7 linked regions of the Homo sapiens genome follow. The protein of the gene in region 7 interacts with the protein of the main gene of each other region in a biochemical or structural test. Each region holds a gene or a part of one and is shown on either strand. Other genes may lie near its edges. The genes, in order: HAO1, MLYCD, IDH1, EPHX2, DAO, PAOX and PEX5.

Region 1 (3,500 bases), on a different chromosome or scaffold from region 7:
TAACCTCTCATTATAGCTTTATAAGCAGCAACTCACTGGATTCCTATCAACATCCTGTGAGTGTCATTTGGACAAGTATATTTATACCCATTTGATGCATGGTAGGCACACAGATGAGTCAAATGACTTGAAGGAATAGAGTTTTACATAATATACTTTTATATATTTATACTTCTAATATATTTATACTTTATAACAGATTTGACTGTTTTATATATTGCATATAAACATTATATCAGTTTCTCCTCCACTAAGGCTGACTCCAATTTTACTCCAATTTTACTACCAATTTTTGGAAGAAAGCCTACCTATCACTCATGTTCTCTCAAGTACCCTCTAAAACTATTAGTTAGATGACTCTATTTAATTTTCCATTTATTTGCCCGTTTCTTGCTACCTTTCCCCCCAAAATGTAACTGCTACCTTGCTCAAAAGGATGTGTCTACTTGGGATATCTAGCACACACATTTTATGAGATTTTAAAAGACAACATAAATGGTAAACTATATATTTAATACAATTTTGAAAGACAAAATTTTAAAATTAAAAAGGAAGAAAAAAATTAAACTAACCCCATAATTCTCCCACCCATCATTAGCATGTAGTTTGTTTAGATTCATCTACCAATAAGTAGAATTGTACAAATTTGATATCATGTAATACATGTCATTTTGTAAACTTTTTTCTTTCCTTAATATATCTATATATCATAAACATTTTTCTATGTCTATATTATTTTAAAATTGTAATACCCAGAGTTCTCCAGAGAAACAGAATTAATAGGATCTCCCCCTTGGAGATTTCTCATCTTTTTCTCTCTCGATAGATACAGATAGATACATACATAAGTCTATCTCTCTATCTCTATCTTTATCTCTAAAACACCTATCCATAGATAGACATTTTTAGGAATTGGCTCATGTGTTTGTGGAAGCTTGCAAGTTCAAATGTGCAGAGTAGGTGGGCAAGCTACCAGGGAAATGTTGATGTTGCAGTTCCAGTCTGAAGGCAGGCTCCTTGCAGAATTCTTCTTTTTCTTAGCAGTCTTACTTCCCCTTCCTCTTCCCCTTCTCCTTCCCCTTTCCCTTCTTCTTCTCCTTCCCCTTCTTCTTATTCTCCTTCACAGACTTATTTTTAAGGCCTTGAGCTGATTAGATAAGACCCACTCACATTATGAGGGATAATCTGCTTTACCTGTAGTCTACTAATTAAAATGTTAATCTCATCTAAAAAACACCTTCATAGCAGCATTCAGACATGTTTCACCAAATATCTGGGCACCATGGTTTAGCATATTGATGCAGAAAATTGATTATCATAATAATATTATTTTTTTTTGAGATGTAGTTTCACTCTTGTCACCCAGGCTAGAGCGCAATGCTGCAATCTCAGCTCACTTCAACCTCTTCCTCCTAGGTTCAAGCGATTCTCCTGCCTCAGCCTCCTGAGTAGCTGGGACTACAGGCGCCCATGACCACGCCCGGTTAATTTTGTGTTTTTTTAGTAGAGATGGGGTTTCACCACGTTGGTCAGGCTGGTCTCGAACTCCTGACCTCAGGTGATCCACCCGCCTCAGCCTCCCAAAGTGCTGGGATTACAGGCGTGAGCCACTGTGCCCAGCAATAATATTAATTTTAATGGGTGTGTTCATTTCATTTTATATATGACCTACAATTTAACCAATCCCCTAAGGCTGGATGTTCAGGTTCTTAATATTTTTTGCCCGTATTTACAGACACCTTTGACTATTGGATTTATTTTGTTCTTCAGGAACAATATACAAAGTGTGGAAAGAAATGTATATTTCTAATCATTGGAAAATAAACACTGAGCAGAAATAACTCCAGTAGCCATTTGTATCAGAGGAGGTAGAATCAGGAAATAGATGGTATGGGCCAGACTTTCTTCTCTCTTTAAGAGATTTGACTTCATATTGCCAAATTGCCCTTCTAGATGTCTTTACTCATCCAACTACAATTCAAAGGTTTGGGAGGGTAAGCAATGCCAGGCCCATCTTGATCATCCCCTTTCTTTCTCAGCCTGTCAGTCCCTGGGAACGGGCATGATGTTGAGTTCCTGGGCCACCTCCTCAATTGAAGAAGTGGCGGAAGCTGGTCCTGAGGCACTTCGTTGGCTGCAACTGTATATCTACAAGGACCGAGAAGTCACCAAGAAGCTAGTGCGGCAGGCAGAGAAGATGGGCTACAAGGCCATATTTGTGACAGTGGACACACCTTACCTGGGCAACCGTCTGGATGATGTGCGTAACAGATTCAAACTGCCGCCACAACTCAGGTAACCATGATCATGTGGGCCCCGAGCTGAGGCGAAAGGGATCTTGACTGGGAATGTTAGGGTCTGGGTTCTACTGATAGCAACGTTGCTAAACATCTAGTTAATCTTCAGCTAATCACATCCCTTTTGTAGACATCACTTTTTTTGAGATACACAATAGAAACAGAAATGGCCTCTATAAAAGTCCAATAAATTTTCAGACCAGAGTGCATTAAGGGCTTTGGCTTTGGGAAGTATGAATTGCTATACAGATGGAAGATACTGAATTTTGCCCAAGCAGCAGTTTATTATTATCATCCTGGTGCCCTATTTCTTTGTTAAAGTCAAAGAGCCACCTTTACCTTTTATTTTTAATGGTACATGGGACAGCTAAGGCTAAGAAGATTGAAGAAAGAAAATAATGAAGGTTTAAAAAAGCCACATCTTTGATCCCTCACTGTCTACTTCTTCTTTCAGCAATATTCCTTTCACTGTGGTTCATCCATGGGTCAAGATTCATTGATTCATTCACTCAAATCATTCATCTTAGCAAAAACAATATATCACATAATCTGATGTTGAACTATAAAGGTTTCATCAGGTCATTCATTCACCCTGTCCACAAGCTGTGAATTATTATCTCTTTCCTGGTTGTATTTTGGGATTACAATCATCTTGAGTCAAAGCTGGAAACTGAGTGGAAGTCTCTGGGAAAGACTCAAACCTCCTTAAGCTATACACCTCTTTTCCCCATCAGATTTTCCTTCCTTCAGTTTCCACCAAAATGTGCTCTTGGATTTTTCATATGAATGTATAATGTACCTCAGGCCTATAAGTATTTTAAAAGGGATCAAAATCTTAGTTTTAATGGAGGACATTTTTATGATGGACTCCTACAGCATCCATCAGAATATGTAAGATGATGAGGAATGTCTTCCTGTGTTCCCAGATCTCATGCCACAGAGGCCCTTGCTTACTCTATGTTTGAATTGTATTTGGAAAAAAAAAAAAAAACAAAAAACTAGGGCTAGCAAAATTGAAAAAAGATAAAAGACGAAAGAAGCCACATGTAAACATACTGTGTTTACTCTTCTAAAATATTAAAAAATGAAAAGATCCAAAATCAAATTAATATTCCCCTGGAATTTCATATCTATTTCAGTGACTGTGGAGTGAATCTCACCACGAAAGTTGCTGCAGTCTTGTATAAGTTTCACATAGTTTTA
Region 2 (3,500 bases), on a different chromosome or scaffold from region 7:
ATATATGTATGTGTATATGTGTGTGTGTGTGTGTGCGTGCGTATATATATATATATATATATATATATATATATATGGTTTTTTGTTTTGTTGTTTACGGTTTTTTGTTTGTGTTTATTTTTTTGTTCATGTTTATGTTTTTTCTTGTTACGTTTCCCAGGCTGGTCTTGAACTCCTGGCCTCAAGCAAGCAATCCTCCAATCCCAAGTGCTGGGATTATAGATAGGTGTGAGCCCAGATGTAATTTTTTTAAAATCCCTGTCGCTTAAATCAGTCTTAGAATAGAATTAGATTGTTCTGTACCTATAAACTATCAACTGGGATCTGATATTGTAACCTCTCACCAGAATCACTTAATGTGGTATGATCTGATCTATTTTTTTAATCTGATTTTTTTTTTTTTTTTTTTGAGACAGAGTCTTGCTCTGTTGCCCAGGCTGGAGTGCAGCAGCACAATCTCTGCTCATTGCAACCTTCGCCTCCCAGGTTCAAGCCATTCTCCCACCTCAGCCTCCTGAGTAGCTGGGAATACAGGTGCTTGCCAACACATCTGGCTAATTTTTGTATTTTTAGGAGAGATGGGGTTTTGCTATGTTGGCCAGGCTGGTCTGGAACTCCTGACCTCAGATGATCCGCCCGCCTTGGCCTTCCAAAGTGCTGGAATTACAGGTGTGAACCACTGTGCCTGGCTGTGTTCTTACTTTTTAAAATGTTCTTTTCCTCTGATCTGAGTGAGTTTGGAGGCTTGTTACTGCCTGGATTTGTGGCCTCCTGAATGTAGAGGAGTTTGGAGGTATGTGTGTCCCTGTGGTTGCATGGTAGGTGTGGGTATGAGGATGTGATGTGTCTGGGGGATGGTGGTTTATAGGCTTTTTGTTTTTCTCCAGAGGCCCAGTTGGTTGATGACTTCAGTTTCTTAGAGGTGAAATCCCAGTGAAACCGAGTCGAATCCCCAGTAGAGGGGAAGGTCTGAGCGAGGTTCAGTGATTTGTGGGCACTCGAGGAAGGTTGGCCTTTAATTCATGGAAAGGGTTCCTCATGGGCAGTTTGGACCTTGCTGTTAGGGTGGAATGAGAGGTGCTCCAACCTTAACAGAGGCACAGAAACTAGAGAAGGGACCTGGTTCCCACTGCCACAGCCACCCGGCCATGCTAGACACCTGCGTACCCTCTGCCTTTTAGTTAATTGAGTACTCCTTGTTGGTTCTAGTAAATTCTGTGCTTACCTATGCTAAATAATACTTATTTTTAGATAGGACAGTATACCCATAGCATCAAGTGTACACCTGCGGAGTGTCAGCTTACGTGAGTGGGAATTTTCCCCAAATTTCTCAGCCTCTGCAGTGCTACCCTCATCCATGACTTTATCCTCCCTTCCCCAGAGCAGGGCTTCTGGACAAGGGAAGGTAACTTTTCTTCACATACCAAAATAAGCAGATCTTGATAGAGCTTCAAAAGAGAGGGAACCAGTTTCTCTTTTAAAAGGAAAAGTGGGCTGGTCTAAACGGTGTCATACAAGTCAATGGAATTAACAATACACAATACACAGAGCCGGGTGCAGTGGCACGCACCTGTAGTCCCTGCTACTTGGGAGGTTCAGCTGAGCCCGGAAGTTCAAGTGCAGCCTAGGCAACAGAGCAAGACCTGCCTCTGAAAAAAAAAATAAGAAACACTCCAGCAGAATCCACTGAGAACTGTCGCTGCCCTTAGCATCACCAGGATATTCCCCGCAGTTGTGTTTCTCAGTCTTGTATTGGTGATAAATGGTGCCTGAATTAACGCACGTACAGTTGCAGAGGCCTCTTTCCCTGGTGGTGTTTGTATCCTGGCAACGTTGCCGCGTGCTGTGGCTCATCCCAGCCTGAACAGCTGCTGCCGGTGTTAGAACTGAGCAACGGAGACTTCTAACCTTTAGCCTGGATTCCCAGTTCTCGTGTACCAGTGTCACATTTTGTAGCTGTCAGGAGCCCAAAATAGAATGAAGAGATCTGTAGGGGAGGAGCTTTCATCAGCCAAACCATTTCTTTCATAATTAATATTAAATTGATAGTAAAACTAGGTATTTCCAGCTTTTTTCATATCACGAATGTAAGACAGATACCAGTACCTCTTACGCAGAGCTCAGCTCATCCGTTCCTAAACTGGGGTACAGAAGCCCTCCTGGCCCCTGGGATGGTCCATAGATAAGTATCAGAGGAGTCCATGTACCCCAGGAAAACGTATGCACAATTTTACTAATGTATTTGCAGTGTTTTGGGGGCAGGGCCTATGGTTTTTAGCACGTAAGAGTGTGAGAGGATCCCAGGAAGATTAAGAATTGCTATAGTCAAATGCAGAAAGTACAGTTTTACAAAGGGCCATTCTGTGTCACCTAGCAAATGATCTCTTTCATCCTGCCCTCTTGCTACTTCCTAATCACGATTCATTCCATTTTTCCATCTTTTTCATTTGATATCAATCTATTAGTGAATGCTTTGCGAACTATAAAAATGAATCAGAAGTGGATCCTGCTTTTATGGCGTTTACAACCAAGTAAAGGAGATTGAGTCATGGAATGTAGAGTTAAAAGGAATTGCAAAGATCTTCTGGTCCAGCTGTCTATCTAATGCTTAAATCCGTTTTCAAACAGCTCCGTTGAGTTCTGTCCACCTGTGCTTGATGGCTTCCAGTGCTGAGGGTCACCGTCTCCCAGGATGACCTCTGTGGACAGCTCCAGCTATTCAAAAGTTCCTCTTTACACTAAATTGAGTCCACATCTGACTGCCCATGACTTCCACCAGTCAGTCCTAGATTTCCTTCCCCGGCCCCCATGGGGTCACACAGAACAAATTTGTGGCCTCTTTCGTGCCCTAGTGCTTAAACATGTAAAAGGAGACCTCATCTCCTTCCGAAAACTTCTCTGAGCCATCACCCCAAAACCTGCAACTCTTTCTCAGGCGTCAAAGTTCTGAGTCCTTTCACCCTTTAACAGGGATTAAAATGTAAAATTGTTTTATAAAATTTGGAAGCTGAGACAGGAGAATCGCTTGAACCTAGGGAGCAGAGGTTGCAGTGAGCCAGGGTTGCACCACTGCACTCCAGCCTGGGTGACAGAGGAAGACTCCATCTCTCAAAAAAAAAAAAAAATTCTAGCTGTTGTAAAGCCATTCTTATAGGTGTTGCCCATTGTGTTCTTTATGACCCTTGTAGAGAGATTCAGAAGGTCATTCTTGTATCAGATGTCCTGAGATGTTTACTGTTATTTAATAATAATGTTCAGTGGATCTGTTACTATGTAGTTTATGAGTAACAAAGACCCAAAATAACAGTGATTTGAATATGACAGAAGTTTGTCTGTCATGTGAAAGTCTAGAGGTGGGCAGCCCAGAGCTGATTCTGCTCTTTGGTGCTCTTGGTGGATTCAGACTTGAATCTTGTTGCTCTGCCGAGAAAAACCTTCATCTCCAAAGCCACGTCGTGGCCCAGGATGGCTGCTCCAATGCCAGCCATCACACCGCCTTC
Region 3 (3,500 bases), on a different chromosome or scaffold from region 7:
ATGCATTTATCTTAAAGCACAGAGAGAAGGTTGGCAGAAATCTGCTGTGCATGAATTATATACATTAAATATTAATATTCTCAAATCACCCAGCATATAATCCTGCCCTTTGCTCTGGTAGGGCTCTTGTATCTGGAAGAGGTTTCCTTATATATTTGCTGAAGTTTTCTTCTTGCCCTTCTGGGTATTTATCCTGTGAAAAAGTAGAACATTTGCTTTTTGCCTTTTCTTTCCCAGCTACCCTGCTACCTTTGATGGCAAATCCCACCCAAAAGTTGTTGAAATAATTAGTGGGCCCTTTTCCTTCACTATTGAAGTTGTTGAAAGCACTCACACAAACAAAAATACCCAACACTCACCTACCTTTTGTTTTTCTTGCCTCTTCCAAATAATATCTGTTGGAATCTGGTTCTGCAGGCTTCAGCACCTTTCACCCTGAACCCAAGTTAACCCTGAGCATTGGCATGGATTCAAGTTCTATCTTTAAGTAATAACAAAGTTCAATAATAGTTGTAAAACACAGTGATTACATGTAGCATAATTATTTCTACTTATTTCTACCAACTACAGTAGGAGTGCTCAGTATCCTCCAGGAGATTATAAGAATTTTCATTCAGTATTTGAAATTTAAGTTTTTCTCAATAACTGAGGATTGAGTACACCCCTAAAGTTTAAAATAGATGTTGGGAATTGTAAAGGTAGGGTGTTTGTCCATTCTTGCGTTGCTATAAAGAAATACCTGAGGCTGCGTAAGTTATAAAGAAAAGAGGTTTAATTGGCTCATGGTTCTGCAGGCTGTACAAGCCTGGCTCCAACACCTGTTCCTGGTGAGGGCCTCAGGAAGCTTCCAATCTTGGCAGAAGGCAAACAGACAATAGGTGTATCACATGGCAAGAGCGGGAACAAGAGAAAGAGAAGGGGGAGGTCCCAGACTCTTAAACAACCAGATTTCAAGTGAATTAACTGAGCGAGAACTCACGTAATCACCAAAGGGGATGGTCCTAAGCCATTCATAAGGGATCCAACCCCATGTTCCAATCTCCTCCCACTGGGCCCCACCTCCAACACTGGGAATCACATTTCAACATGAGATTTGGAAGGGACAAATATCCAAACCATATCAGTATGTAAAAGAAGTTTCAAAATTATTTGCCTTTTCTTAAATGTATTTCTGGTTCATATCAGTTTTTGGCATTTCTGCATCTTCAGGATTTTAAAGACTGTATGTTTTTTCATTTCTGCTGTCCTTCCAAAACAAGTTAGAATGTCCTTATCTAGAACTGGCTTTTCTCTCATTATGTGCCTCAGAAATTTGTTGGAAACCTGTCTGGGACTTCTGAAATCTAGTCTCAGATGTGAGAGCTGAGAAGTAGGTCATTTGGTTGTGGTGGGTGATTTTAGCCTTATTACAACTACATTACATTTATTCTTCTCCCTTTTTTCCTCTCACTGGCTTCTCCTCTACAGAAGGTGGTGGTGTTGCCATGGGGATGTATAATCAAGATAAGTCAATTGAAGATTTTGCACACAGTTCCTTCCAAATGGCTCTGTCTAAGGGTTGGCCTTTGTATCTGAGCACCAAAAACACTATTCTGAAGAAATATGATGGGCGTTTTAAAGACATCTTTCAGGAGATATATGACAAGTAACTATAGTTCTTTTTTAACTTTTTCTTTATTCTCAAGTAAGCTGACATTTGCATATAGAGTATGTATCTCCCTATCCCTATGATTCTGGGTAAATTGAGTGAAAATCATCACTGTCTCTTAAAGATAAGGGCAAAACTGAGGTTTAGCAGGAGTGAAACAAAACCACTCTGACTTGCTTTTATAAGATAAACATGTTCTTAAATAAGGTCCCCACATGAATTGTTTTCAGAGCCAGGTTCTTTAATGTTTAAATAAACGTACGCTGTTAGTGATAAGTTCTAATTTTTCATGTGTGAGTTTCTAAGTCAGACCCATTTCCATTCTTTCTGAAGCCCATTGTTAGAATTTAAAATTCTGTTGGCCAGGCACGGTGGCTCATGCCTGTAATCCCAGCACTTTGGGAGGCCGAGGCGGGCGGATCACGAGGTCAGGAGATCGAGACCATCCTGGCTAACACGGTGAAACCCTGACTCTACTAAAAATACCAAAAATTAGCCGGGCGTGGTGGCGGGCGCCTCTAGTCCCAGTTACTGGGGAGGCTGAGGCAGGAGAATGGCGTGAACCCGGGAGGCGGAGGTTGCAGTGAGCCGAAATCACGCCACTGCACTGCAGCCTGGGCGACAGAGCGAGACTCCGTCTCAAAAAAAAAAAAAGAAAAGAAAAGAAAAAAAAGAATTTAAAATTCTGTTTTAGTGGAGTCATTTGAACTTAAGTCTAAGTTTATAACAACACTGGCTTCCACAGCACAGGAGGTGAGCATGTGTTAATATTTAAGATTGGCATAACTCCCTTTAGGTGCAAGTGTTCAGGCCAAAATGTTCCTGAGGCATTTTGATTCCTCCTCCTGCTGCCCATCTATACCAAGCCCAGAAACTGTCTGGAATATATTTTAGTTTCCTGAATGACACCAAGAAGTAGAACAGTCTTTTCAAAAATGTATTTTAAAAATAAGCTGAATCTCAAGAATCTGATCTATAGTATAATGAAAACTGAAAAGTGAAGTAGTCATTGGGATACTCTACTGTCTCACTTAATTCTCACGGCTTCCCTGCAAGGTGGGTAAAATTGTTCCTACAGATAGTCAAATTGAGTTTTACAGTTAGAAAATGATTGGGCTAGGATTTGAGCCAATGTCTGTCAGATTCCTGAGTTTCTGCTACTTCTACTAAAATATGCTGCTTCTTGTGTGTCCGGTCTTCTGTTTGGGACAAGCAGATGATATCCCTAACAAAATCAATTTTCTTTATTATTATTCTCTTTTACCTTTTGTTTCCCAGGCAGTACAAGTCCCAGTTTGAAGCTCAAAAGATCTGGTATGAGCATAGGCTCATCGACGACATGGTGGCCCAAGCTATGAAATCAGAGGGAGGCTTCATCTGGGCCTGTAAAAACTATGATGGTGACGTGCAGTCGGACTCTGTGGCCCAAGGTACAGAGGTGGAGCCTGGCCTGTAGGAACAGGGTCATTCCAGGGTAGTTCTCTAATTTGGGAAGGGGAGTTTTGTAGTCCTTTGTTGTAAAATCTTGGAATGTTAAACCTCCAGGTCCACCGTCTTACCTGACAGCTAAGGAAATTAAGCTCAGACTAGAGAAATGATTTACTCAAGACCACATGGGAAGTAAATTAGTGGATTGACACTCCTGGCTCCAGTGTCACTCCTTGAAGTTTTAAAGCCTACCTGATCTGAAAATCACTCCCTTTCCCTGCCCTCCTTGTCCTTTGGTGAAAATGTAAAAAACCAGGGCACTCAGGCAAGGAGGGATAAAGTGAGGAGCTTGATCATGTCATAACCAAGCTTTGGTGCCTGCAAAGCTCATTTATTGGGCAGCAGGACCTACTCATGTCCCTCT
Region 4 (3,500 bases), on a different chromosome or scaffold from region 7:
AACTTATCTTTTAGAATCAATTGACCCTCGAGGGAGTCAGGTGACAGGGGAGTATATTTTCTTAAGGCCTCCTGTAGCCGCTCAAGGAAGGCAGTAGGATTTTCTACCTTTTCCTGAGTTATGGTGGACATCATTGAATAATTCATGGGCTTTTTCCTAATTCTCCTTAGTCCTTCTGGAAGACAGGTCAACGGATGTTTGCGACTCCAGTCCCCATGATCTGAGTCTAGGTCCCAGTGGAGATCCATACTGGGGACGGCTTGTTGACCGGTAGGGATTTGTCCCTTTCTTTGGCTGTCATTCTGTCATTTACTTGACTAAGATACCATTTACTTGACTAAGATACCAAACTCTCAGGCTGCAGCTAAAGCCGCATTCTTTTCATTAAAGGGCAGGGTTTGATCTAACAATAGCATGACATCTCTCTAAGTGAGGTCGAAGGTTTGCCCTAGACCCTGTAGGACATCTATATACCTATCAGTATCATCTGAAAACTTCCCCAGGTCTACCTTGATCTGCTTTAAATCAGAGAGGGAGAAGGGGATATATACCCAGGTTGGGCCAAATTCCCCTCCCCCTACAGCTTGAAGGGGACATAACCGATAGCCCGGGGGTTTTATGGTCCCTTGGAGATTTCTTTGCTTGTTTCCTTCTGAGTGGGGGAGATTAGAGGAGGCTTATCATTAACAGGAAGAGGAGCTGGAGCTAGGCTAGGATATGGAGGTAAGCTCATGTTTCCAATACCAAGAATGTTCTTGTTGTATCAAGTTGCTTTTTTTTTTAATGACCACCTGCCCTTGTTTTATAGATTCAGTGGTATCTTCTTCCTGTATAGTTATATTCTTTCCCTAGTTCCTCTTCTTTTATCATCTCCCATTCTCTAAGAAGAAGAAATAATTTTCCCCTGTTTTCCCACTCACCTAGTGTCTTGTAGTTATTTGTTTATACCTTGCCTCCCTTGTTCTTCTGTGAGCTTCCTATGAATAGCATCATATTTTTCCACTTTTGCATCACAGCACATAGCACAATGCCTCACATACCTAAGATGCTCAATAGGATTGTTAAGTTGAATATTGCATTGCTTCTTAATACTGAGGAGCAGATACTGAAAGGGACCAGGAGTCTTTTGGAGGAGGTGGAAATGTTCTAAAATTGGAATGTGGTGATGCTTACACAACTGTAAATTTACTGCAAATCATTGAATTGTCATACTACATGAATTTAATGCTATGTAATTGTCTTAGTCCATTTTCTGTTGCTTACAACAGGATATCTGAAACTGGGTAATTTATAAAGAAAAGGAATTTATTTCTTGCAGTTATGGAGGCTGATAATTCCAAGGTTGAGGGGTTGCATCTGGTGAGGGCATTTTTGCTGGTAGGGACTCTCTGCAGAGTCTCAAGGTAGCACAGGGCATCATATGGTGAGGGGGCTCAGTGTGCTAGCTCAGGCCTCACTTCCACTTCTTATAAAGCCACTAGTCCCAATCCCATGATAACCCATTAACTCATTAACCCATTAGCCTATGGATGAATTAATCCATCCATGAAGGTGGAGCCCTCATGACCCAATCACTTCTTAAAGGCCCACCTCTCAATTTTAATTTAATGCCACAATGGGGATTAAATTTCAACATGAGCTTCAGAGGAGACAAACGTTCAAACCATAGCAGTAATTATACCTTAACAAAGCTGTTTAAAAAACCAACAACTGTTGGCAAAGGTATGGGAAAACCATTGCTGACATTGAAAAGTTGAGCAAGGCCACAGATATTAGGTATATGTCTCCATATAGTTGGTCCAGAGCTGACCACTGTTACCTGCAAGAGGGTGTCTGATAAAAGGTATACTTGACTATTATCAGAAATAAAGCTCCCAGGATGGGGATATTTGTTCTGTTACTCAGGGCTGGTAATTTTAACTGGCTTGCCACTTCAACTGGAATTCATCTGGGATTGGCAAGCCAGTTAAAATTACTTTCCAGACCTGAGTAATAGAACAAATGCATTCGTACACATAAATACATTTGTTCTGTTACTCAGTGTATTTATTTACTGAGGCTGCTGTAACAGCAAACAGAGACTGGATGGCAACAATGGAAATGTTTTCTCTCACAGCTCTGGAGGCTGGAAGTCCAAGATCAAGATGTCAGCAGGGTTGGTTCCTTCTGAGGCCTCTCTCCTTGGCTTGTTAACAGTGTTCTCCCTGTGTCCTCACATGGTTGACTCTCTGTGTGTGTCTGTGTCCTAATCGCCTTATAAGGGCACCAGTCCTATTGTTGGATTAGAGCCCACCTGTATGATCTTATTTAACTCAATTACCTCTTAAAGACCCACTCTCCAAATACAGTCACATCCTGAGGTATTGGAAGTTAGAACTTCAATGTATGTATTTGGGATGGGGGTATACAACCCAGCCTTAACACAGTGATATGGTTTGAATTTGTGTCCCCACCCAAATCTCCTGTCCAGTTGTAATCCCTAATGTTGGAGGAGGGGGTTGGTGGGAGGTGATTGGATCATGGGGGTGGATTTCCTCCTTGCTGTTCTCGTGATGTTGAGTGAGTTCTCATGAGATCTAGTTGTTTATAAAAGTGTGTAGCACTTACCTCTTCTCTCTCTTCCTCCTGCTCCAACCATGTAACACGTGCCTTGCTTCCCCTTCACCCTCCGCCATGATTGTGAGTTCCCTGAGGCCTCCCCAGCTATGCTTCCTCTACAGCCTGCAGAACCATGAGCCAATTAAATCTCTTTTCTTTATAAATTACCCGATCTGAGGTACGTCTTTATAGCAGTGTGAGAACAGACTAATACAGGAAACTTTTTAAAGGTTAGAAGATGACATTAAGATAAAATAGAAACTAGAGAGGCAGAATCGAAACCACAAAAAACATATTCCATTCTTTTTGAAGAAGGTGAACTCATGAAAAAGTTCTTTGAGACCATGCCTGGTGCACACGAGGACAGTAATGGCCGCGTGCCCACTCTCGGTTCTGACCGTTATATAGTAAAGTAGGAAGCGCCTCTGGGTGAAGCTGCTATTAGGTGGTTTCCCATGGGCAGCTTCTCTGTGGAACATACTGTGATTTACTGTATGGTCTCATGTCCTCAGCTGGATGGCTCCTTGCGCGCAAAGATCCCAATTTGAACTGCGTTTGCATTTTCCAGTTCCTGGCAGTATCCCTTTCTAGTGGCTGCTTCTCAATGAATATGAACAGTGTCTGTTTCCATGTGCTGCCATGACAAAATCCACAGAATGTTCCTGATGTTCTTTGTGTTTTCCAGAGGACTTCTGAATGATGCTTTCCAGAAAGGGGGACCAGAGGGTGCCACTACCCGGCTTATGAAAGGAGAGATCACACTTTCCCAGGTGAGGGGACATCACCACACAGAGCCCTTTGGATGAACGTTCTCTGCCTGTGTGCCCATCTCCCCGAACTTGGGGCCCACCATAATAGAAAACACCCACCTTTTCTGTGAAGACAAATGTTGTTTTAATGGT
Region 5 (3,500 bases), about 100 Mb from region 7:
CCTGGCACTACCCTTTGGGCCCACAGAACAACATTGCTCCCACCTCCATTTCACAGCCTTCAAATATAGCTCTGATTTTTACCTTTATTTCCACCTTTTGCTTACTGTGACTCTAGCTATGGCTGGTTCCACACAAGCCTAATTCTGGAGGGAAAGAACTATCTACAGTGGCTGACTGAAAGGTGAGATTTTAAGCTTCACTTTGAGGGAGGTACCTCCCAGAGACCAAGTTGTAGTGGAAGATGGTTCGTGGGCTTCCCTCAGCATGGACTAACCCCCAGGTTTGAAGAATACCCTTAGGCCTGGTGTGGGAGCTATCCTTGGTCCTGATCACCGCTGGGCACAGAGGCAATGGATCCTGAGCCTAGCTGAGCATCAGAACCACCTGGGCAGCTGTTTACACATGATGTCCATTAACAACCTCTTTCAAATCCCTAATGTTTGTGTAATAGTTTTAGATGTATTCTTTTAAGGTTTCCAGATACATTTACATCATCTGCAAAACATAAGCTGCCTTTTATTTTTATCTCCCTCTCTCTTTTTTTTTCTTCTCTAACTGCTTTGGCCAATACCTCTAGAACAATGTTACTCATACAGATGATAGTGGATGGCTTTGACTTGTTCCTCATGTTAATAGGAATCTTGCAGTGTTCTAAATTAGCAAACACTCACTTGAGAGATACATTGGTATTTATATTCACATACATTCATATTAAGGGAGATTCCATACCTTTTTTGTGTGTGTGAGATGGAGTCTCGCTCTGTCACCCAGGCTGGAGTGCAGTGGTGCGATCTTGGCTCACTGCAAGCTCTGCCTCCTGGGTTCATGTCATTCTCCTGCCTCAGCCTCCTGAGTAGCTGCGACTACAGGTGCCTGCCACCACCACACCTGGCTAATTTTTTGTATTTTTAGTAGAGATGGGTTTTCACCATGTTAGCCAGGATGGTCTCAATCTCCTGACCTCGTAATCTGCCCGCCTCGGCCTCCCAAAATGCTGGGATTACAGGTGTCAGCCACCACGCCCAGCCTGATTCCATACATTTTTTATATATTACTGTTTTTTAAAGATTTTTAGGCCAGGCATGGTGGTTCATACCTGTAATCCTAGCACATTGAGAGGCCGAGGTGGGCAGATCACTTGAGCCCAGGAGTTCAAGACCAGCCTGGGCAACATGGCAAAACCCTGTCTCTACAGAAAAATTCAAAAATCAGCCAGGTATAATGGTGCATGCCTGTAGTCACAGCTACTTAGGAGGCTGAGGTGGGAGGATGGCTTTATCCCGGGAAGGAGAGGCTGCAGTGAGCTGTGATCATGCCACTGCACTCCAGCCTGGGTGACAGGGCGAGACCCTGTCTCAAAAAAAAAAAAAAAGATTAAAAAAATATGGAATATATAGTGGCTTTTATCAGATGACCTCAGAAGATTTTTTTTAAATGTAGATTTTAGGACCCCACTCTATACCTGCTGAATTAGAACTTCTGGGATAAGGTTCATAAATTTGCTTTTTTTCATTTTTTTGAGACAAAATCTTACTTTGTCACCCAGGCTGGAGTGGGATGTAGTGGTATGAACACAACTCACAGCAGCCTCAACTTCCTGGGCTCAAGTGATGCTCCCACCTCAGCCTCCAAAGTAGCTGGGACCACATGCATGTGCCACAATGCCTATCTAATTTTTAAATATTTTTGTAGAGATAGGGTCTCACTATGTTGCCCAGGCTGGTCTCAAACCCCTGGGCTCAAGCAATCTTCCTGCCTCAGCCTCCCAAAGTGCTGGGATTACAGGCGTGAGCAAACAGGCCTAGCAAAAATTTGCATTTTAAGAAGCTTCCTGGCGATTCTAATTATCAGCCATGTTTGGGAATCATTGTACTAAGACATGGCTATTTCTCCTAACCTGGGGACACATGACCCTTGTCCAGTCTTTTCCAGGAAAAACATGCCCTCAAGATGTTTTTCTATCTTGAGGAAATGATGGAAATGAGATAGTTCCAAGGGTATGCTTCACCTTCTTTTTGGCTTATTTCCTGTTCTTTGGATGTTTCTAGTGTATTTCTTTCTTTCTTCTTTTTTTTTTTTTTTTTTTTTGAGACAGAGTCTTGCTCTGTCACCCAGGCTGGAGAGCAGTGGCGCAATCTCGGCTCACTGCAAGCTCCGCCTCCTGGGTTCATGCCTTTCTCCTGCCTCAGCCTCCCGAGTAGCTTGGAATACAGGCGCCTGCCACCACGTCTGGCTAATTTTTTTTTTGTATTGTTAGTAGAGACGGGGTTTCACCGTCTTAGCCAGGATGGTCTCAATCTCCTGACCTCGTGATCCGCCCACCTCGGCCTCCCAAAGTACTGGGATTACAGGCGTGAGCCACCGCGCCTCGCTGTTTCTAGTGTATTTCTAATCGTGATAGATGTTTTTCCTATGGGATGTTTAAAAGGAGGGTGGATGTCCTCAGCCCACCTCCCTCCTCATGCCCGGCTTCTGACAAAGGGGAATTTGGCACTGGTACAACTCTCCCCTTCTCTACTCTGAATCTCATCGCCTTTGCTGTTACAAAGCAATGTGGTGGTCATAGGAAGTGCTGGGGGCTAAGAGGCCTGGGTTTGAGTTCCAACTCCATCATTGACTCACTCTATGGCCTTCAGCAAGGCCCTTCCCCCACTCCATCTGCCCAACAAGGGGCTTGGACCATCTCTGGTTTCTCAAAGGAGATTTTGTGGACCACCAGTCCAGTAGGTGCTCATGAGCTGATTTGATGACACAGCCATCTTCTCAAGCAGCATCCTGTGCAACTAACGTCCGCAGAAGGTTGTTTGGGAAAGGTCCCTGTGCCACCCTCTTGGTGGGATGGGGCAGATAGCTGAATACTGGGCTTTTTGATGTGTTTGATCATCCCAGGTTAACTGAGAGGGGAGTGAAGTTCTTCCAGCGGAAAGTGGAGTCTTTTGAGGAGGTGAGTTGCAGGGCTGATGCGGTGGATGGGGCAGGGAGAAGAGGGGAGGCCTCTGCTTCTTGCTGCTGAGTCGGGGGCTCCCTTCTCAGGCTCCTAGGGTCCCCACAGGCCTGCCTCAGACCCTTGCCCCAGAAGCACTCAGGTATTCTGAAGGAGGAAGTCTCTGCCTTCATGTTGGTAGTGGGAACAAAGGAACACTGGGATCATGGTGGCCATTAGGAGCTGATTTATATCTGAGACTCAATGAGTTTTGGGTCTAGAGAGCTGGCCGCATTTTCTCAGTGTCAGCTGCACTCCAAGGTCAGAACTTGGTTGCTTCCTAGCCCTACCGACATCTGTGTTGGTCTTTCTGCAAAGTCCAGGCCCTCAGCTGACTCACCTCTAAAGAAGCACCACCACCAATAATAATGACAGGAAAAGCCACCATCTCCAGGCACCAGCAAAAAGAGCTTTACTGTATGGCTTCATTCAATCCCAGCATCTAAAACCCTGCTTGGCACAAGGAAGGCGCTCCGTACATGTAGCTACTAGTGCTATGTCATGAAGACTAACCTG
Region 6 (3,500 bases), on a different chromosome or scaffold from region 7:
CTAGGCAAGTAGAGAGAAGTCACTTAATTGCCCAAGTTCACAAAGCTAGCGATTGCCAGCACTCACTTGGAAATCTAGGTGTGATTGACAGGTGTGTGATGAAAAGCAGGAGCCTCCGCAGCCCTAACTCCTGTCTCCAAGGGGTGGCTTTGCCCTCCCCGGGGCAGGGATGAGCACTGAGACCCCATTGCTGTTTCCCAGAGATGCAGTCGTCGTCCACACATGAACATCTGCTGCTGGCTGGGCACGGTGGCTCACGCTTGTAATCCCAGCCCTTTGGGAAGCTGAGGCAGGCGGATCACCTGAGGTCAGGAGTTCGAGACCAGCCTGGTCAACATGATGAAACCCTGTCTCTACTAAAAATCCAAAAATTAGCTGGGCATGGTGGCAGGCACCTGTAATTCCAGCTACTTGGGAGGCTGAGGCAGGAGAATCGCTTGAACGGGGGAGGCAGAGGTCACAGTGAGCCGAGATGGTGTCATTGCACTCCAGCCTGGGTGACAGAGTGAGACTCTGTCTCAGAAAAAAAAAAAAACCAAAAATCTGCTGCTCAGTTTGCCTGTTTTTGTTTTTTGTTTTTTTCTTAATAGAACTTGTCAGTGTTTCCAAATCAGCACACATAGATCTACAGCGGTCTTTTTTGTTTCCCTCCAGTGGCTTTGTTCATTCACGTTTGGAGTAAGTGCTTGCAGGCCCTGCTAAGTGCTGATCACGGGGACATTGTCAGTAGATACATTGCTACAACTGTGAGCATTTTGTTTATAAGGAGCCAGTTCACAAAAATTAGCCGTCGGGTGCCTGTAGTCCCAGCTACTCAGGAGGCTGAGGCTGGAGAATTGCTTGAACCCAGGAGGCAGAGGTTGCAGTGAGCCGAGATTGTGCCATTGCACTCCAGCCTGGGAGACCAGAGCGAAACTCCGTCTCAAAAAAAAAGGAGCGGGTTAATTTGCCACGCAGTGTTTTCTTGTCATTATTTCATAAGCATAGATGGAAATTTAGGTGGCCTTCACTTTTTCTATTTCATGCAGTTTTACATGTGCACTTAAAAACACTTGTGTTGGCCAGGCACGGTGGCTCACGCCTGTAATCCCAGCACTTCGGGAGGCTGAGGCAGGTAGATCACCTGAGGTCACGAGTTCAAGACCAGCCTAACCAACATGGCAAGACCCCATCTCTACTAAAAATAGAAAAATTAGCTGGGCCTGGTCGTGGGTGCCTGTAATCCCAGCTATTTGGGAAGCTGAGGCAGGAGAATCACTAGAACCTGGGAGGTGGAGGTTGCAGTGAGCCAAGATGGCATCGTTGCATTCCAGCTTGGGCGACAGAGTGAGAATCCATCTCAAAAAAAAAAAAAAAAAGAAAACCCAAAAAACAAAAAAACAAAAAACACTTGTGTGAAAGGTGGGGAACAGAGGCTCACGCCTGTAATCCCAGCAGTTTGGGAGGCCAAAGTGGGAGGACTGAGCCAGGGAGGTCAAGGCTGCAGTGAGCCCTGATCATGGTGCTGCATGCACTCTAGCCTGGGCAACAGAGCAAGACCCTATCTCAAAAACAAGGACAAAAAAGTAAAACTGCTTGTGTGAATGTGTCTGTAGGATAAACACCAGCAGGGGAAATTGCTGGATCCAAGGTCTGGACAGACAGGACTTCCGTGGAGGGCTTTATGTGATGTAAGAAGAGTCCAATTCTGAATTCCAGGTTTTCTTAGGGAACATTTGGACACCTTCTTTGACCCTCCCCTGCCGGCTGAGAAGGCAGAAGCAATCAGGAAGATAGGCTTTGGGACCAACAACAAAATCTTCCTGGAGTTTGAGGAGCCCTTCTGGGAGCCAGACTGCCAGCTGATCCAGCTGGTGTGGGAGGACACGTCGCCCCTGGAGGATGCTGCCCCTGAGCTACAGGACGCCTGGTTCCGGAAGCTCATTGGCTTTGTGGTCCTGCCTGCCTTTGCGTACGTTTGCTCCCTGAGAAGTTCTGCGAGTGGCTGGCTCATAGGCCTTCATCTGATGGAGGACGCAGCAGTGTGTCTGTTCACTGCAGGGTATTTCTAGGGGGTTTAATGGGTAGGGTTCCCATGAGCGCCCCCCCACCAGGTGCTGGCTGCACCTGGGCCTGACCCCTGCGGGGACAGATGGCGCCCTGCTGTATGCGGGTTGTCAGCGTCCCTCAGGGCCCAGAATGTGTTTGTAGACTTGCAGGCAGGCTCAGTCTTCAGTCAGTGGGAACGTGTTTACTGGAATGTTGCAGGGAGCTGGGGCTTGTAGATACAGAAGAACTTTGAAACACCATCTGCCCATACGTGGGGAGACAATACTTAAATGGGATGAAATAATTGAAGGAAACATTCCGAGAAGTAATGGAATGGGAGACCCACAGAGGAAGGGCTCCCTTGTATGGGCTGGCCCTCTTAGAAACAGCATATCTAGACCACGTGGCGATTCAGGAGTTAATCCCATGAGTGATGTGGGGATGGAGGGACTGACTTTTCCAGCAAGATTAAAACACAAAGACAGCCTGATATAGTCAGATGGCAGAAATAATTCCACGTTTCCACTGAGAGATGCCGCAGGAGGGGGCACCAAGTTCTTGTTCTGAAAGACCCGGGATGGGGTGGGATGTAGGGCATGCCTGCCAGATGGTTCATAGTTGCCATCCACTGGGAGCAGGAGGCTGCAGGCTGCAGACCAGCCCTGCACCTGTGACGGGGGAAGCCTGTGTGTCTCCTTCACACTGAAGAGAAAACTGGCATTTCGGCCAGGCGCGGTGGCTCATGTCTGTAATCCCTGCACTTTGGGAGGCTGAGGCGGGTGGATCACCTGAGGTCAGGAGTTCGAGACCAGCCTGGCCAACATGATGAAACCCCGTCTCTACTAAAAATACAAAAAATTAGCCGGTGTGGTGGCACGCACCTGTAATCACAGCTACTCAGGAGGCTGAGGCAGGACAATCGCTTGAACCTGGGAGGCAGAGGTTGCAGTGAGCTGAGATTGTGCCACTGCACTCCAGCCTTGGCAACAAGAGCAAAACTCTGTCTAAAAAAAAAAAGAAAGAAAACTGGCATTCCAGGTGTTGAGATAGGCCTGGGTTGCTGGTGGGCAGCCGGGTGGGTGACTGTGTGTAGAGCCACCTGCTCCAGGCCCAGCCCCACCTCCTGTGCTCTCTTGCTTAGGACATCAGTGGGACCCTGAGTGCTTTGGTGGGACCCTGTCTGTGGCACGGGGTGGTAGCTGTCCCATCCTTTTATATACCTGCAAAGGGTTGGGGATCTCAAAGAGCTTTTGTTTATGTGAGTCACATCTGTAAATTTACCCCATGATAAATAAAATATTTTTTTGTTTTTGAGATGGAGTCTCGCTCTGTCCCCCAGACTGGAGTGCAGTGGTGCAATCTTGGCTCACTGCAAGCCCCACCTCCTGGGTTCACGCCATTCTCCTGCCTCAGCCTCCTGAGTAGCTGGAACTACAGGCACCCACCACCACGCCCGGCTAATTGTTTGTATT
Region 7 (3,500 bases):
TATAATGTAATATATGTTATGTAATAATTATATATGTCATATATAATTTAATTATATGTCATATTTAATTATATATGTCATAATTTATATATGTCATATATAATTTAATTATATGTCATATATAATTTAATTATATATGTCATAATTTATATATGTCATATATAATTTAATTATATATGACATATATAATGTAATAATTATGTGTCATACATATATGTGTCATATATAATGTAATAATTATATGTGCCATATATAATGTAATAATTATGTGTCATATATAATGTAATAATTACATCATATATAATGTAATAATTATATATGTCACATATAATGTAATAATTATATATGTCACATATAATGTAATAATTATATATGTCACATATAATGTAATAATTATATATGTCACATAATGTAATAATTATATATGTCACATATAATGTAATAATTATATATGTCACATATAATGTAATAATTATATATGTCACATATAATGTAATAATTATATATGTCACATATAATGTAATAATTATATATGTCACATATAATGTAATAATTATATATGTCACATATAATGTAATAATTATATATGTCACATATAATGTAATAATTATATATGTCACATAATGTAATAATTATATATGTCACATATAATGTAATAATTATATATGTCACATATAATGTAATAATTATATATGTCACATATAATGTAATAATTATATATGTCACATATAATGTAATAATTATATGTCACATATAATGTAATAATTATATGTCACATATAATGTAATAATTATATATGTCACATATAATGTAATAATTATATATGTCACATATAATGTAATTATATATGTCACATATAATGTAATTATATATGTCACATATAATGTAATTATATATGTCACATATAATGTAATTATATATGTCATATAATGTAATAATATATGTCATATATAATGTAATAATTATATATGTCATATATAATGTAATTATATATGTCATATATAATGTAATTATATATGTCATATATAATGTAATTATATATGTCATATGTAATAATTATATGTCATATGTAATAATTATATATGTCATATATAATGTAATAATTATATATGTCATATATAATGTAATCATATGTCATATACAATGTAATAATTATATATGTCATATACAATGTAATAATTATATATGTCATATACAATGTAATAATTATATATATGTCATATACAATGTAATTATATGTCATATACAATGTAATTATGTTATATATAATGTAATAATTATATATGTTATATATAATATAATAATTATATATGTTATATATAATGTAATAATTATATGTTATATATAATGTAATTATATATGTTATATATAATATAATAAGTAGTAATTACTTATTATTTATAATTAGGTGTATTCTGAGAGTCTTGATCTTTGTTTTTCACATTTTGACATTTCATGCTCAGATTTTGAGACTACTTTGTTGACATTATTCAGGCAAAGTTTCAGTTAAAATGGAGTAGAAGTTTTTGTACTTTAATACCGAAGGGGTAGTAAAAGCAAGGGTGGTCAGATCTTGAAACTGGGGACAAAGACTGCTAGTATCAGCTAATATTTTCACACCCCTGCCCAAATGTCCCTCTTTAATGCAAATTGGAGTTAGTAGGTTCTCAACAAGAGAGTGGAGTTCCCCCTTGGGAACTGTCCTTGTCATGGGCCAGGAGTGGGGAATAGCAGGGGAAGGTGGTGGCAGACTAACTAGTAAGATTAGTTCTGGACACAGGGCAGAAGGAAAGAACACCGTAGGCTTGTGCCTTCTCTTTGTTTCCTTGTGTTCTTTAGTGCCCGCAGTCAGTCTCCTTGTTTTTTTTTTCTGGCCACAGGATAGTAAAGGGCAAAGTCCTGGAGGATGAAAAACAGTTCAGCACCCTCATTGAGTTTGTTGCCTTGATAGGTTAATTCTGATGTTGCAGCAGTCCCCTTTGTCACTAGAGCTTCTGAGACAGTTTCTAAAATTAGACTGAAAAAACATAGCTACTCAAAGATAATCAAAAGTGAGAAAAGTCAGAATAGTGTTTACTTCTGGGGGCTGGGAGACTGAGGGAGCCTGTGAGGGAACTGTAAACGTTCTGTATCTTGATCCGGGTGGTGGTTATGTGAGTGTATCAAATGTGGAAGTTAATTTAGCTGTACACTTAAGTTTGGTAGACATTATATGGTTTCATATTTGTATATTACATTTCAATTAAAAAATGAAAAAACCCACCAAACATCCATAGGGAAGAGCAGACCTATGTGTCTTTAATTCTAGCCTAGCATTCCACTTCTCTGATTCTCTTGGTAGGCAAATTACAATGAAATAAGGCTCCTTTGGCCGGGATTGTGTGAACTCTGGGTAGAGGGAGAACAGACCAGTGCCTTGGTTAAGGAACAGGAGCCCTTCTGTGCTCCCTTCACTCCTTACTGGCTCCCTGCTGTACTTCTGAGGAAAGTGAAAGCCCTTCCGCTTCCTATTTCTTATTGAAATATCTTGCACTTCAAGAAAAAGAGTTTGGTTCTTAATCCTTTCCTGAGATTCCTTATTTGATCTCCCGTTCCCAACTCTCAGTAAATTTCTGCCCCAGGCTCCTTGAGAATGGGTTGGATATTGAGGATGTTGAAAATTTAGTACTATATTCTTTTGACCAGGGGTTTCTGAGGGAGTCAGCAGAGTTTTGTCTGCTTTGGTGTGGCTAAGAGGGTCAGTTGAATATGGGCATCTCTTTCCCTTTCCTTGATCCCACACTGAATGAACCTGTGTGATTTCCCCACTTCTCTGCTCCTTGCAGACCCCTTGTCTGTGTCCCCTGCCCGCTGGGCTGAGGAATATTTGGAGCAATCAGAGGAGAAGCTGTGGCTGGGAGAACCTGAGGGAACAGCCACCGATCGCTGGTGAGTTCAGATACCTCTTTCCGAATCCCGTGAAAGGAGTATGGACAGTTTTCCCAGCCTCCTCCATCCACGTTCTCGAACCAACTTACTTTATTCTTTTTTTTTTTTTTTTTTATCATTCTTGGGTGTTTCTTGCAGAGGGGGATTTGGCAGGGTCATAGGACAATAGTGGAGGGAAGGTCAGCACATAAGCAAGTGAACAAAGGTCTCTGGTTTTCCTAGGCAGAGGACCCTGCGGCCTTCCGCAGTGTTTGTGTCCCTGGGTACTTGAGATTAGGGAGTGGTGATGACTCTTAAAGAGCATGCTGCCTTCAAGCATCTGTTTAACAAAGCACATCTTGCACCGCCCTTAATCCATTTAACCCTGAGTGAACACAGCACATGTTTCAGAGAGCACAGGGTTGGGGGTAAGGTCATAGATCAACAGGATCCCAAGGCAGAAGAATTTTTCTTAGTACAGAACAAAATGAAAAGTCTCCCATGTCTACTTCTTTCTACACAGACACAGCAACCATCGGATTTCTCAATCTTTTCCCCACCTTTCCCCCTTTTCTATTCCACAAAACCGCCAT

The links.
Region 1: the proteins of PEX5 (region 7) and HAO1 interact in a test that uses a peptide from one of them, tested with the Homo sapiens proteins (one large-scale study listed by BioGRID).
Region 2: the proteins of PEX5 (region 7) and MLYCD interact in a test that uses a peptide from one of them, tested with the Homo sapiens proteins (one large-scale study listed by BioGRID).
Region 3: the proteins of PEX5 (region 7) and IDH1 interact in a test that uses a peptide from one of them, tested with the Homo sapiens proteins (one large-scale study listed by BioGRID).
Region 4: the proteins of PEX5 (region 7) and EPHX2 interact in a test that uses a peptide from one of them, tested with the Homo sapiens proteins (one large-scale study listed by BioGRID).
Region 5: the proteins of PEX5 (region 7) and DAO interact in a test that uses a peptide from one of them, tested with the Homo sapiens proteins (one large-scale study listed by BioGRID).
Region 6: the proteins of PEX5 (region 7) and PAOX interact in a test that uses a peptide from one of them, tested with the Homo sapiens proteins (one large-scale study listed by BioGRID).

The regions. Positions count from the first base shown.
Region 1 is NC_000020.11:7,912,959-7,916,458, reverse strand, and holds part of HAO1 (2-Hydroxyacid oxidase 1), read left to right. Parts: intron 1-2,039; coding exon 2,040-2,295; intron 2,296-3,500. UniProt on the Homo sapiens protein: Broad substrate specificity (S)-2-hydroxy-acid oxidase that preferentially oxidizes glycolate.
Region 2 is NC_000016.10:83,902,115-83,905,614, forward strand, and holds part of MLYCD (malonyl-CoA decarboxylase, mitochondrial), read left to right. Parts: intron 1-3,500. UniProt on the Homo sapiens protein: Catalyzes the conversion of malonyl-CoA to acetyl-CoA.
Region 3 is NC_000002.12:208,241,572-208,245,071, reverse strand, and holds part of IDH1 (isocitrate dehydrogenase [NADP] cytoplasmic), read left to right. Parts: intron 1-1,467; coding exon 1,468-1,645; intron 1,646-2,926; coding exon 2,927-3,078; intron 3,079-3,500. UniProt on the Homo sapiens protein: Catalyzes the NADP(+)-dependent oxidative decarboxylation of isocitrate (D-threo-isocitrate) to 2-ketoglutarate (2-oxoglutarate), which is required by other enzymes such as the phytanoyl-CoA dioxygenase.
Region 4 is NC_000008.11:27,497,643-27,501,142, forward strand, and holds part of EPHX2 (bifunctional epoxide hydrolase 2), read left to right. Parts: intron 1-3,283; coding exon 3,284-3,368; intron 3,369-3,500. UniProt on the Homo sapiens protein: Bifunctional enzyme. The C-terminal domain has epoxide hydrolase activity and acts on epoxides (alkene oxides, oxiranes) and arene oxides. Plays a role in xenobiotic metabolism by degrading potentially toxic epoxides.
Region 5 is NC_000012.12:108,890,092-108,893,591, forward strand, and holds part of DAO (D-amino-acid oxidase), read left to right. Parts: intron 1-116; coding exon 117-182; intron 183-2,890; coding exon 2,891-2,945; intron 2,946-3,373; exon of another isoform or gene 3,374-3,500. UniProt on the Homo sapiens protein: Catalyzes the oxidative deamination of D-amino acids with broad substrate specificity. Required to catabolize D-amino acids synthesized endogenously, of gastrointestinal bacterial origin or obtained from the diet, and to use these as nutrients.
Region 6 is NC_000010.11:133,382,262-133,385,761, forward strand, and holds part of PAOX (peroxisomal N(1)-acetyl-spermine/spermidine oxidase), read left to right. Parts: intron 1-590; exon of another isoform or gene 591-678; intron 679-1,698; coding exon 1,699-1,951; intron 1,952-3,500. UniProt on the Homo sapiens protein: Flavoenzyme which catalyzes the oxidation of N(1)-acetylspermine to spermidine and is thus involved in the polyamine back-conversion. Can also oxidize N(1)-acetylspermidine to putrescine.
Region 7 is NC_000012.12:7,196,186-7,199,685, forward strand, and holds part of PEX5 (peroxisomal biogenesis factor 5), read left to right. Parts: intron 1-2,825; coding exon 2,826-2,928; intron 2,929-3,500.